Regions from separate parts of the Homo sapiens genome. Here region 1 is linked to region 2. Evidence: fine-mapped expression QTL. A gene starts in region 2. The other region holds a variant in brackets. All regions are shown on one strand. Distances are between the middles of the regions. Region 1 overlaps NECAB2 (N-terminal EF-hand calcium binding protein 2). Region 2 holds the start of NECAB2 (N-terminal EF-hand calcium binding protein 2).

The links. PIP is the estimated chance that this variant, and not a neighbour inherited with it, causes the effect.
Region 1: its variant is fine-mapped to the expression of NECAB2 in whole blood (INTERVAL, PIP above 0.99).

The regions. Positions count from the first base shown.
Region 1 is chr16:83,990,761-83,996,122 of GRCh38, forward strand. NECAB2 (N-terminal EF-hand calcium binding protein 2) reads left to right here. Exons shown (of 13, transcript NM_019065.3): 7 at 3,542-3,660; 8 at 3,849-3,928. Among named protein-coding and RNA genes, the nearest start is that of NECAB2, 25 kb to the left of the region's middle. RefSeq lists a silencer at 5,226-5,285. The variant C/T (reference allele first, on the strand shown) is at 2,816.
Region 2 is chr16:83,965,836-83,971,197 of GRCh38, forward strand. NECAB2 (N-terminal EF-hand calcium binding protein 2) reads left to right here and starts at 2,409. Exons shown (of 13, transcript NM_019065.3): 1 at 2,409-3,014. The coding sequence starts at 2,814. OSGIN1 (oxidative stress induced growth inhibitor 1) reads left to right here. Exons shown (of 6, transcript NM_182981.3): 6 at 1-497. The coding sequence ends at 172. RefSeq lists a silencer at 2,285-2,474.

The DNA of each region.
Region 1 (5,362 bases), 25 kb after region 2:
GTGCCTTTGGTGCTCCATTATGTAATATAGGCACAATTATATACCTAAAATCTCAGCCATTGCAAGGATTGAATGAGATAGTAAATGCTCAGGAGAATGCCTGGTGTACATATTTATTAATACAGTGAAGACACCATTTCCCAGACTCTAATTTGTTTTGCTGCATCCACATGCTAATTGTTTATGCAGAACTATTCTGTTGTTTGGCCCACGTTTTATTTATTTATTTATTTTTTTGTTTTAGACAAAAAGTGTCGCTCTGTCGCCCAGGAGTGCAGTGGCGTGATTTTGGCTCACTACAACCTCTCCCTCCCTGGGTTCAAGCAATTCTCATGCCTCAGCCTCCTGAGTGGCTGGGACTGCAGGTGTGTAACACCATGCCTGGCTGATTTTTGTATTTTTAGTAGAGACGGGGTTTTGTCATGTTGGCCAGGCTGGTCTTGAACTCCTGGCCTCACGTGATCCACCTGCCTTAGCCTCCCAAAGTGCTGGGATGAAAGGTGTGAGCCACCACAGCTAGCCTATTTTCTCTTTCTCTCTCTCTCTTTCTTTCTCTCTTTCTCTCATTCGTTCTTTTTTCTTTTTCTATTTCCTTTTCTTTTCTTTTCTTTTTTTTTTTTTTTTGAGATCGAGTCTTGCTCTGTCACCCAGGCTGGAGTGCAGTGGCGAGATCTCAGCTCACTGCAACGTCCGCCTCCCAGGTTCAAGCGATTCTCCTGCCTCAGCCTCCCTAGTAGCTGGGATTACAGATGCCCACCAGCACACCCAGCTAATTTTTGTATTTTTAGTAGAGATGGGGTTTCACCATGTTGGCCAGGCTGGTCTTTAGGGTGATCCACCCGCCTCAGCCTCCAGGTGCTGGGATTGCAGGCTTGAGCCATGGAGCCCGGCCTTATTTTATTTATTGACACAGAATCTTGCTGTGTCCCCCAGGCTGGAGTACAGTGGCACCATTGTGGCTCACTGCAATCTCCAACTCAGGTTCAAGCAATTCTCCCACCTCAGCCTCCCAAGGAGCTGGGACTACAGGCATGTAGTCCCACCCACACCCAGCTATTTTTTTTTTTTTTTTTTTTGTAGAGACGGGGTCTCGCCATGTTGGCCAGGCTGTTCTCAAACTCCTGGTCTCAGCAATCCTGCTGTCTCAGTCTTCCAAAGGGCTGGGATTACAGGCAGGAGCCACCACACCCCAGCCCACTTTTGAAAATTAGAAAGCAGTTTAGGAAATGGCATATGGTTATAACTGCACTCTCGGCATCACATGCCGTAAGTGAAGTAACTGTAAAAATAAGCACCTGTCATTGTTTACGATCCAGCTTGAATCCTGAGGCTTGCCACCTCTCTGTTAAAAAGAGAGACTGGGGGGAAATCAGAGAGGTGTTGAAGACAGTAGTAGCAAGTTGAGAGTTTCTCAGGAGGACTGAAAGAGACGTGAAAGAGGAGTGTTTCTTTCTGGTCTTGTGTTAGGCCTTGTTTGTGTGCTTGGAACCATGGGAATGCATCTGGGGTCCCATCCTAGGTGGTGGCTGCTGTGTTAGGGGTGTGACCTGGTATTTAGAGAGGAGCGACATTCTCGTGGCTCAGCAGTCCCATCTCCCGGGGAACACGAGCACCCGTCCCCCCGCCCACCTCCATTTGCTGTTTCAAATTGAGAAAAACCCTTCTTTGCTCAGTTCTTCCCAGAACAGCTGATGTGCTTGACACAGAAGAAAAAGAGAAAATGCAAACAGATGAGGGAAACAGCCAGGTGTCGGCACCCAAGCTCGATTGAGCCCTTAATTTTCCAGGCAGAGAGGTACCTCAGGACCAGGATATTGGTTTGCTGGGGGACTGGGGTTTGATCGTGTGTTTCTTCGTAGTTGAAGAGCTGGTCCTGATCAGACATGATTGTGAAGGTAACTCTGAGACACTGTTTCCCAAATGAGTTTGATCTGAGCATTTGCGCTGAATCACCTGGGAAAATTAAAATACACATTCCTGGGCTCCTGGCCATACTCACTGGCTAGAATCCCTGGACTGGAGCCCAGAACTCTGCACATGTGGTCAGTCTTGTGATTCTTGGGTGCCCCAGAATTAGCAGCCATCGCTGTGAAAAAAGCTGACACTTAGATTTCCTGGGTTTTCCTGTTACTATCTTGATGAAAAACTTGCTGTTTTTCTCCTGCCGCAGAACAGATAGTATGGCTGCGCAGTTTTCAGGGCAGACTTCCCACACTGGGTCAGCTCCATCACGCGTCAGCAGTTACACCCACCTGCCCCCATGGTGGGGACCTTACTTGGGGATGTTGTCAGACGGGGCAGCTTGTCGTGATACCTCTGTTCCACACATGCCCCTCCCTCGAACTTCCCCAAATCTCAGCTAGTTTGGCTCTAGGCTGTGGGTCCCTGAGGACTATCCTGTTTCCCAGCCCCAGGACAGTCTCCCAGGATGTCACCTCTAGCACAGGCTACTGGCTCAGACCCCACCACCCGGGAGCCCTGAGCAACCCGTCATGGTCTGAGGGATACATTTAATTTCCTGCTGGTTTATAGAGAAGCCATGATTGACACCATAAAGACTCTGCCAGCCTCTCCCCTCCCAAGGCGGGAGTCGAGTTTGCTCCCTCCGCAAGGGGGAGAGCCTGGCGGAGTGTTCAAGGTTCACAAGAGACAAATTCCAGAATGCACCAAGACCGCGATGCACAGAGACCAAGCGGGTGTTGGGGCCGTGCACAGGGCACTCTGTGTGTCTTCTGGGGGAGTGTCTGTGTTTCTGTATGTCTGCCAGGAGCTTTTCAGCATCCTTTTGCATGGGAGGATTTGGTCATTCATTGAG[C/T]ATTTTTGAGTCCCTACTATGTGCTGGACACAGTGCAAGGTGAGCTGTGTGTGTGTGTGTGTGTGTGTGTGTGTGTGTGTGTGTGTGTGTGTGTCTGCCTCTGCCTGTGGCTAGCTGTGCCTGTCAGGGCACGCAGGGGTGTGTATGCACATGAGTATGCACAGGAGAGGGGTGTCCAGGGCCGGGAGATGGGGCCAGGCCCAGGTCAGGATCACAGTTTCTGTCCTGTTACATCCCGACTGTCAGTGTCTCTTTAGGTCTCGCTTTTATGTGTATGTGTTGGAGGGGGGTCTTGAAACCAGGTCCCCCACCCCAGAGGGCACCAAACATTAAATGGGCCTATCATGAGGGAGGGAGGGGGACTTGGTCACTCCACAGCTTGGGCTCTACACGTGCCCGAAAGCTTCGAGCTGTTAGAGTGGGGGTGGGTCCCTGGCTCAGCCTCACTCTGGAACTGAATCTCTTGGGGAAAAGGCCTAGGCCGTGGGGTCCTAGAATGGAGCTGAATTCGAATCCCAGCTCTGCCCAGCTAGCTGCGTGGCCCTGGCTGAGTCACCTGCTTTAAGAACCTCATTTCCTCCTCTGTCAAAACAAAGGCCATGATGCAAGTTCTGTGCATGTGTGAGTCCACTGTCTTGCGTAATAAATGCCTGTGGAAGATGCTGGAAGTGGTAAGGGCCCTGAAGCCACCGCCATGGTCTGTGTGTGTTCCCATCCAAACTGCAGACAGAACCACATCAAACCCAGCCACAGCGCGGCACAGACCTGGTGTGGAAGCCCCACTCCCGCCTCTGCCCCCAACCACAAGCTCATGGCTATGGAACAAGGCAAGACCCTTCCATCTGGTGAGAGAAAGCGGGGGCCCTGGTGGGGGTACCAGCTGGGGGTCCCGAGGAGTTCTGAGAGTCCTCTGACAGGGACTGGGGAGATGAGCAAGTTTGATGCCCCTGGAGGGGCTGGATGTTTCCAGCTTCCCCCCGAAGCCCTCGTCCTGCCCACCACTGAAGTCTGTGTGTCTCTTTCTCTACCGCAGCCACGGAGGATGCAAAGGAAGAGGGTCTGGAAGCCCAGATCAGCCGCTTGGCAGAGCTGATTGGGAGGCTGGAGAGCAAAGTAAGCCCTGGCCTGACCACGGCGTCTACTCCTTCCAACCCCTGAGGGAGTGCAGAGTTAAGCCTGGAGTTCAGGACAAAAGTCTGGGCTGCAGAGGGGCCAGGGAACCATGAAAAAGACATCCCCCAGGTGGGGCGTGGAGCTGCCGAGGACGAAGCTAAGGATCAAACCCCGGGGGATGCTCGTGTTGTTCAGGCCCAAGGAGGGGCGCCTGGGAAGAGAGAGTGTTGGGGGGTCAGGCGGGCCTGCAGGCAGCAGGAGCAGCTCCAGGAGCAGAGGGTGGTCAGCAGGGTCCCGTGTTGCAAGGCCCTAGCTTCAAGGAGACTTTGCTCTGAAGTGGCTGGAGCAGATATTGGCCGAAAGGCAGCACCAGGATGAAAGAGAGACGTGATGATTCGAGAGAGTTTCAAAACAAGGAAGGAAGTGACCAGCAGTAGCAAATGTATTAAGTGTGATATGGGACGTCCACAGGTGATAGAAAATGGCACAGCCCTTACAGAAAACATTTTCAGATAATGTTTCGTGACTCGGGATAGAGTGCTCACAATATGACCATTTGGTGGAAAGAAAAGTTTGTCTTAGGGCCTACAGACAGATGGGCTCAGGTATCAGTCAGAATTCTGGTTGTGCCACTTCATAGCTGTGTGACCCTGGGCCAGGGACTTGTCCTCTCTGAGGCTTAGATTCCTCCTCTGATAATCAAGAAAATAACCTGGAGCATGGGACCCCTCCCTCATAGGGGTGTCGTTAGGATGAACCAAAATGATGTCTCCGGTTTAGCACAGGGCCCGGTGCTGTAGCTTGCATTTAATATTAGCAATGTTAGCAATTATTATGAGGCATTCTGTTACCCAAACCTATCCACATGCACACAGCACACCCGTATACCCACATAAGCCAAGGTAACTGAGCTCTCAGAACCCTGGGATTGAGGTGGTTTTATGTTTCTCCTACTTTTGTGTATTTTTTTTACACCCTTTGTAAAGGGTATTGCTACTTTTAGTTTGGGGGTTCTCAGGCATTCATGGGGGCAGGAACAAGGGGCTCCCCGCATGGAGGGAGACAGAGGCTGACGTGGAATGAAGTCCGAGGGAGGAAGCTCAAACTTCCCCTCCTGCAGGGATGAGGCTGAGGTGGAGTTACCCCCTTCCTGAAGCCAGCTGCGGGAGCGGCTCGGAGGGGACCCCGTGGCCCGGTTGTCATAACAACTCAGCGGGCGCCTCGGGAGGGAGACTCTGAAGCTTATTTTTAGAGCACCGTCGCCCTAACAACCAGGCTGGCTGGTAACCACGGAGTACCTGGGCGTCCTGGAGACGGGGTGGGACCAGGTCCTCCTCCCCAGCCTCTAACTGGCCCGGGCGGTCAGCAGGGGCCAATCCGGGCCTGGCTTCAGGCCCCGCCCTTCACCGGCCAACCGGAGCTGCCTCTGGGCTG
Region 2 (5,362 bases):
CGCCAAGAGGAACCCCATTGACGTGGACCCCTTCACCTACCAGAGCACCCGCCAGGAGGGCCTGTACGCCATGGGGCCGCTGGCCGGGGACAACTTCGTGAGGTTTGTGCAGGGGGGCGCCTTGGCTGTGGCCAGCTCCCTGCTAAGGAAGGAGACCAGGAAGCCACCCTAACACTCGGCCAGACCCGCTGGCTCCCAGGCCCTGAGAGGACAGAGATGACCACATCCCTGCTGGATGCAGGACCCGTCCAAAGATGCCCCGGGGAGGGGTGTCAGCCCACGTTGCTGGCCTTTGGGGTCAAGAGGAGTAGGGATCCCAGGCTGCCCTGGACTTAGACCAGTGTCTGAGGTGGTAACAGCGGCCGCAGGCCAGGGTTGGCCTAGACCTGGGATTTGTGGGGAAAGCTGCTGGTGTGACCAGCTGAGCACCCAGCCAGGAGACCTGCAGCCCTGCGCCTTCCAGAAGCAGGTCCCAAATAAAGCCAGTGCCCACCTGCTCTCATGCGTCTGAGGACTCTGTGCTCGGAGGGAGCTGCGTTCCCGGAACCCTGCACTGGGCTGGGGGGAAGGGAGGAAAGGGGATTGTGGGAGGAGTCCTGGGGCATGTGGTCCTGGATGAGGTCCATGGCTGGGGCCTTGGGGTACAAAGGATGGTGCCCCAAGTGTGGGGGCAGTTGAGCGGGCAGCTGTACTAGAGTCTGGGGGTGGGAGTGGCGGGTGTGTGCAGGCAGTGATGTCCAGGAGGGCGCTGCAGCCCCGCCCCCTCCGCAGCCTGTCCCAGGCCTCCCTCCTCTCTGTTCTGCCATGCGGCCTCCTTTCAGTCCCTCCTGCTGGCCAGGTCTCTGCCTGCCCCAAGGCCTTTGCACAGAGAGTCCCCAGCCCAGGACAGTTTCCCGCCTTTCTTTAACTCCTTTTCCTTGGGATGTCTCAGCATAAGAATCACTTCCTCTAGGAAGCCTCTTCTGACACAAACCCCTCCACTGCCGTCACAGCAAATACTCCTTTCATGGTCTAAGGTGCTACCTTTTCATAGCAGTGCAGTTTTTTTTTCTTTTTTTTGAGACAGAGTCTCATTTTGTCACCCAGGCTGGAGTGCTGTGGCGCTTGGTTCACTACAACCTCTGCTTCTGGGTTGAAATGATTCTCCTGTCTCAGCCTCCCAAGTAGCTGGGATTACAGGTGACTGCCACCTCGCCCAGCTAGTTATTGTATTTTTAATAGAGACGGGGTTTCACCATGTTGGCCAGGCTGGTCTTGAACTCCTGACCTCAAGTGATCCGCCCTCTTTGGCTCCCCAAAGTGTTGGTATCACAGGCATGAGCCACCACACCCTTCCAGCAGTTCAGTTTTAATTGTTCATTTGTTTGTGGAATCATTTCAGTGTTTGGCTCTGCCCACTTGGATGTAAGCTCCAGGAGCTCTGGGAGACCAAGTACACCATCTGTTTTGCCCATTGCTGGAACTCCGTGGTTGGGCACCTGCCTGGCACCTAGTGGGTTCTCCTTAATTCATCTTTTAAATGGATGGGTGGATGGATGGATGGGAGGATGGGTGGGTGGGTGGACAGATGGATAGATGAGAGGATGGTTGGATGGATGGGAGGATGGTGGGTGGGTGGATGGATGGATGGATGGATGGGAGGGAGGGGGGTGGGTGGGTGGGTGGATGGATGGGAGGGAGGATGGATGGATGGATGGGAGGGAGGGAGGATAGATGGATGGATGGAAGGATGGTGGGTGGATGGATGGGAGGGTGTGTAGGTGGGTGGATGGATGGATGGATGAGAGGGTAGGGGGGTGGATAGATGGATAGATGGGAGGGTGGGTGGGTGGATGGACAGACAGATGGGCGGGCGGGCAGATGGATGGACGGATGGATGGATGGATGGATGGATGGATGGATGGATGGATGGGAGGGTGGATGGATGGATGGATGGAGGGTGGATGGATGGATGCCAGGGAGGGAGGATGAGTGGGTGGGTGAATGGATGGATGGATGGGAGGATGCTGGGTGGGTGGATGGATGGATGGATGAATGGTTGGGAGGGTGGGTGGATGGATGGACGGACAGTCGGCCGGCCGGATGGATGGATGGGAGGATGGGTGGATGGATGTATAGATGGATTGATGGACGGGTAGGCAGGTGGATGGATGGATGGATGGATGGACGGACAGGTGGGTGGGTGGATAGATGGATGGGTGGATGGAGTATGAAGGAAAGATGTTCTGGGGTGAAGACTGGTTCTGGGCGTTTTGTAACCAAGGGGGCGGCCTGAGGGGGCGTGCACGCCCGCGGGAGTTAAGGATGGGCGCCCGCGGGCGTGACGGGGCCGCGGGGCGTGGGCGCCGCTCCCCGGGGCTGGAGCCGGCAGAGGGCGCTCCGGGCTCGCTGGACACCCGCGCTTCGGCCTCTGCTGCGCGCCGCGAGTGGGAGGGGGGACTTTAGAAGCGGGGAGAGCAGGAGACTTTTGGGGAGCAGGCCCCAGGGGCGCCGCCCCGCCCCCAGGCCCCACATACCCCTCCCCTCCGGGTAGCCCCCTCTGTGGCTGCGCCCGCGCCCCTCGCCCCGGCGGGCAGTCCTCAGGCCCCGCGCCCGGCCGGCGGGGGTGGGGGCGGCGGGGAGCGGGCACGTGGCTCGGGGTCCGGCCGGCCCGCCCCCCGGCGCCGGCCAGTCCCCGCGGTGTCCGCGGCCGCGGGGGCAGCGGGAGAGAGGGCGGGGCGGCGCGGGCAGCGCGGGGAGGGGGTCGCGCGGGGGCGGGCCGCAGCTGGGCGGGGGTCGGCGGGCTTCCGGGCGGCGGCGGCGGGCGCGGCGCGATGTGCGAGCGGGCGGCGCGCCTGTGCAGGGCCGGCGCGCACAGGCTGCTCCGGGAGCCGCCGCAGCAGGGCCGGGCGCTGGGCGGGCTGCTGCGCTGGGTGGGCGCCAGGATGGGCGAGCCCCGGGAGTCGCTGGCCCCCGCCGCCCCCGCGGACCCCGGCCCAGCCTCGCCGCGCGGGGGCACCGCCGTCATCCTGGACGTGAGTACGCGCCGGCCGGGACCCCCGCCGTGGCCTCCGCTGGGACCCGGAGCCCCCTCCGCCCCTCGGGCGGACCCCGACGCCGCGACCCGCGAGGCCCTCCCTACCCGGGCAGGAGACCCCCGGCCCCTCCGCGTGCCGGAGCGGGAGCCCCCAGCCCCGCCACGTCCAGGCCGGTCTCCAGCCCAGTCCTCTCCCTGGACCGGGAGACCCCCCTCCTCCGCCCCTCCACCGGCGCTTCTCGGAGTCCCTGCCTGCCCACAGTGGGGAGCCGTGAGCCCCCGGACCCGGCCACTGTCCCCCTAGTTTTGTCCAAGCCAAACCCCCACCCTTTACCCCGCGGGACCGGAGCCCCTCGCCGCGTCCAGCCGCCTCCTCCTCTCCATCCCGGATCCTGTCCGGAGCGATACTTTTCTGAGACCCCTAACAACCCCTACCTCTAGCCCACCTCTCTTCGCCCTAGACCCTGAGCCCCCGTTCATCTCACGCTCAAAGACCCTTTGCCCCAGCTACTGCCACTTTAAAAGTGAAGCCCCCTCCCCACCTTCTGTCTTCTCGTCTCCTTTCCATTGAGCCAGAGCCATCGCCCATCAGCCCTGAGCTGGTACCCCTCTGGTCTTCCCCACCCCGCCCCCTTCCATTCCAAGTCCTCTGTTCCCTTCCCCACACCCCTCTACCCTACAGAGAGCTGGGTCCTCTTCATGGACCAGACTCACCCCTCACCCCTCCTAACTCCCCTGGGACCCAAATCACCCATCTCTGGGAAGCCCACCTCACCCTCCCACCCGCCCCACCCGGGAGGGAGGAATCTTCAGGGGGCGGCTCGGAGGAGGAGGACTTCTCCCAGCAGAGAGTGCTAGGAGGAGGTGGAGGAGGCTTCTGGGGATGTTGACTGCGTGTTTCAGCGAGGGTCCTGCTGGGGTGGGGCTGGGGGCTGCCTCTGCCTGTGTGGTGGATTTCTGGGAGAGTGGTGGGTGTGTGTGAATGTGCACACGCGTGTATCGCGGATCCCTGTGAGTCGGGGGATTCCCTCCCTTCCTCTCTCCTCTTCCCTGCTCCTGGAACCCTTGGCCGGGGTCTGGGCTGGGAGGGCCGGCCAGAGCAGGGGGAGCTCTAGAGTGCCACACTCGCAGGCACACATTCACACACTCACGCACTCGCTTACGCACGCACACACAGCCAGAGACACACCCATGCAGCCAAACCATCCCCTCCTCAGGACCCCCGCAGAGCTCCCACTGAAAGTCCTGGGCAGAGCCCTGCAGCCCCAAGCTGCCCTGCATGGAAGCCCTGCCCAGTCAGGGTGGGGGCTCTGAGGTTCCATCTCCTCACCTGCCAAAAGGAGTGATGAGCGGGGGGTGGGGCGGGAGGTGCTCATGCAGACTCCTGGAGCTGGCTGACATTACCAGGTGTCAGCCCTGCCATGTCACTCATGTGTTCAGCATTCCTGCCCAGAGCCGGCACCTACCTGGTGCCTGGCCTCAAGGGGGATCTGGGACACCCAGATAGGGACCCCAGTTTTGAGGAGCCTTGCCCAGTCAGGAACGGGGCTGCGGGGTGCCCAGGCTGGATCTTTGAGGAGGGCTTGGGGATCTGAGGTTCAGCCAGGAGGAGGGGTGATGTTTGAGAGGCCCTCCCATAGCTGTGCTTCAGTCTCACCGCCCAGGTGCCTAGAAATGACCAAGGGTGCCCCCTTTCTCGTTGCCTGGAGGGATGGGGGGCGAGGGCATCTGTCCTTTACCCCAAGGCGAGGACAGAGGGTGGAAGGGTCAGAGTGAGTATTACCTCCTCCTCCTCCATGGCTGACCTGGCCCCAGCAGCCCTCCCTGGTGTCGGGAAATGTGTACATGTTGCTGCCTCTCCCTGGGTCTCAGTACCCTCCTTGTTAAAACAAGCCACTGAGATTGGGGTGGGGGCCACCGCAGAAGCTGGGATCCTTCTCAGGCTTTAAAGTGCTGGTGGGCAGGGCGCCGTGGCTCACGCCTGTAATCCCAGCACTTTGGGAGGCCGAGGCGGGTGGATCACCTGAGGTCAGGGGTTCGAGACCAGCTTGACCAACAAGGTGAAACCTCGTCTCTACTAAAAAATACAAAAATTAGCCAGTTGTGATGGCGGGCGTCTGTAGTCCCAGCTACTCGGAAGGCTGATACAGGAGAATTGCTTGAACCCGGGAGGCAGAAGTTGCAGTGAGCCAAGATCGCGCCACTGCACTCCAGCCTGGGTGACAGAGCGAGACCCCATCTCAAAAAAAAAAAAAATAGTGCTGGTGAATCAGTCCCCGTGGGAACTGGTTACAGTGAAAGGTCTGACTCCACTACAGTGCAGAGTAGGTGGGACATCCTGCATTG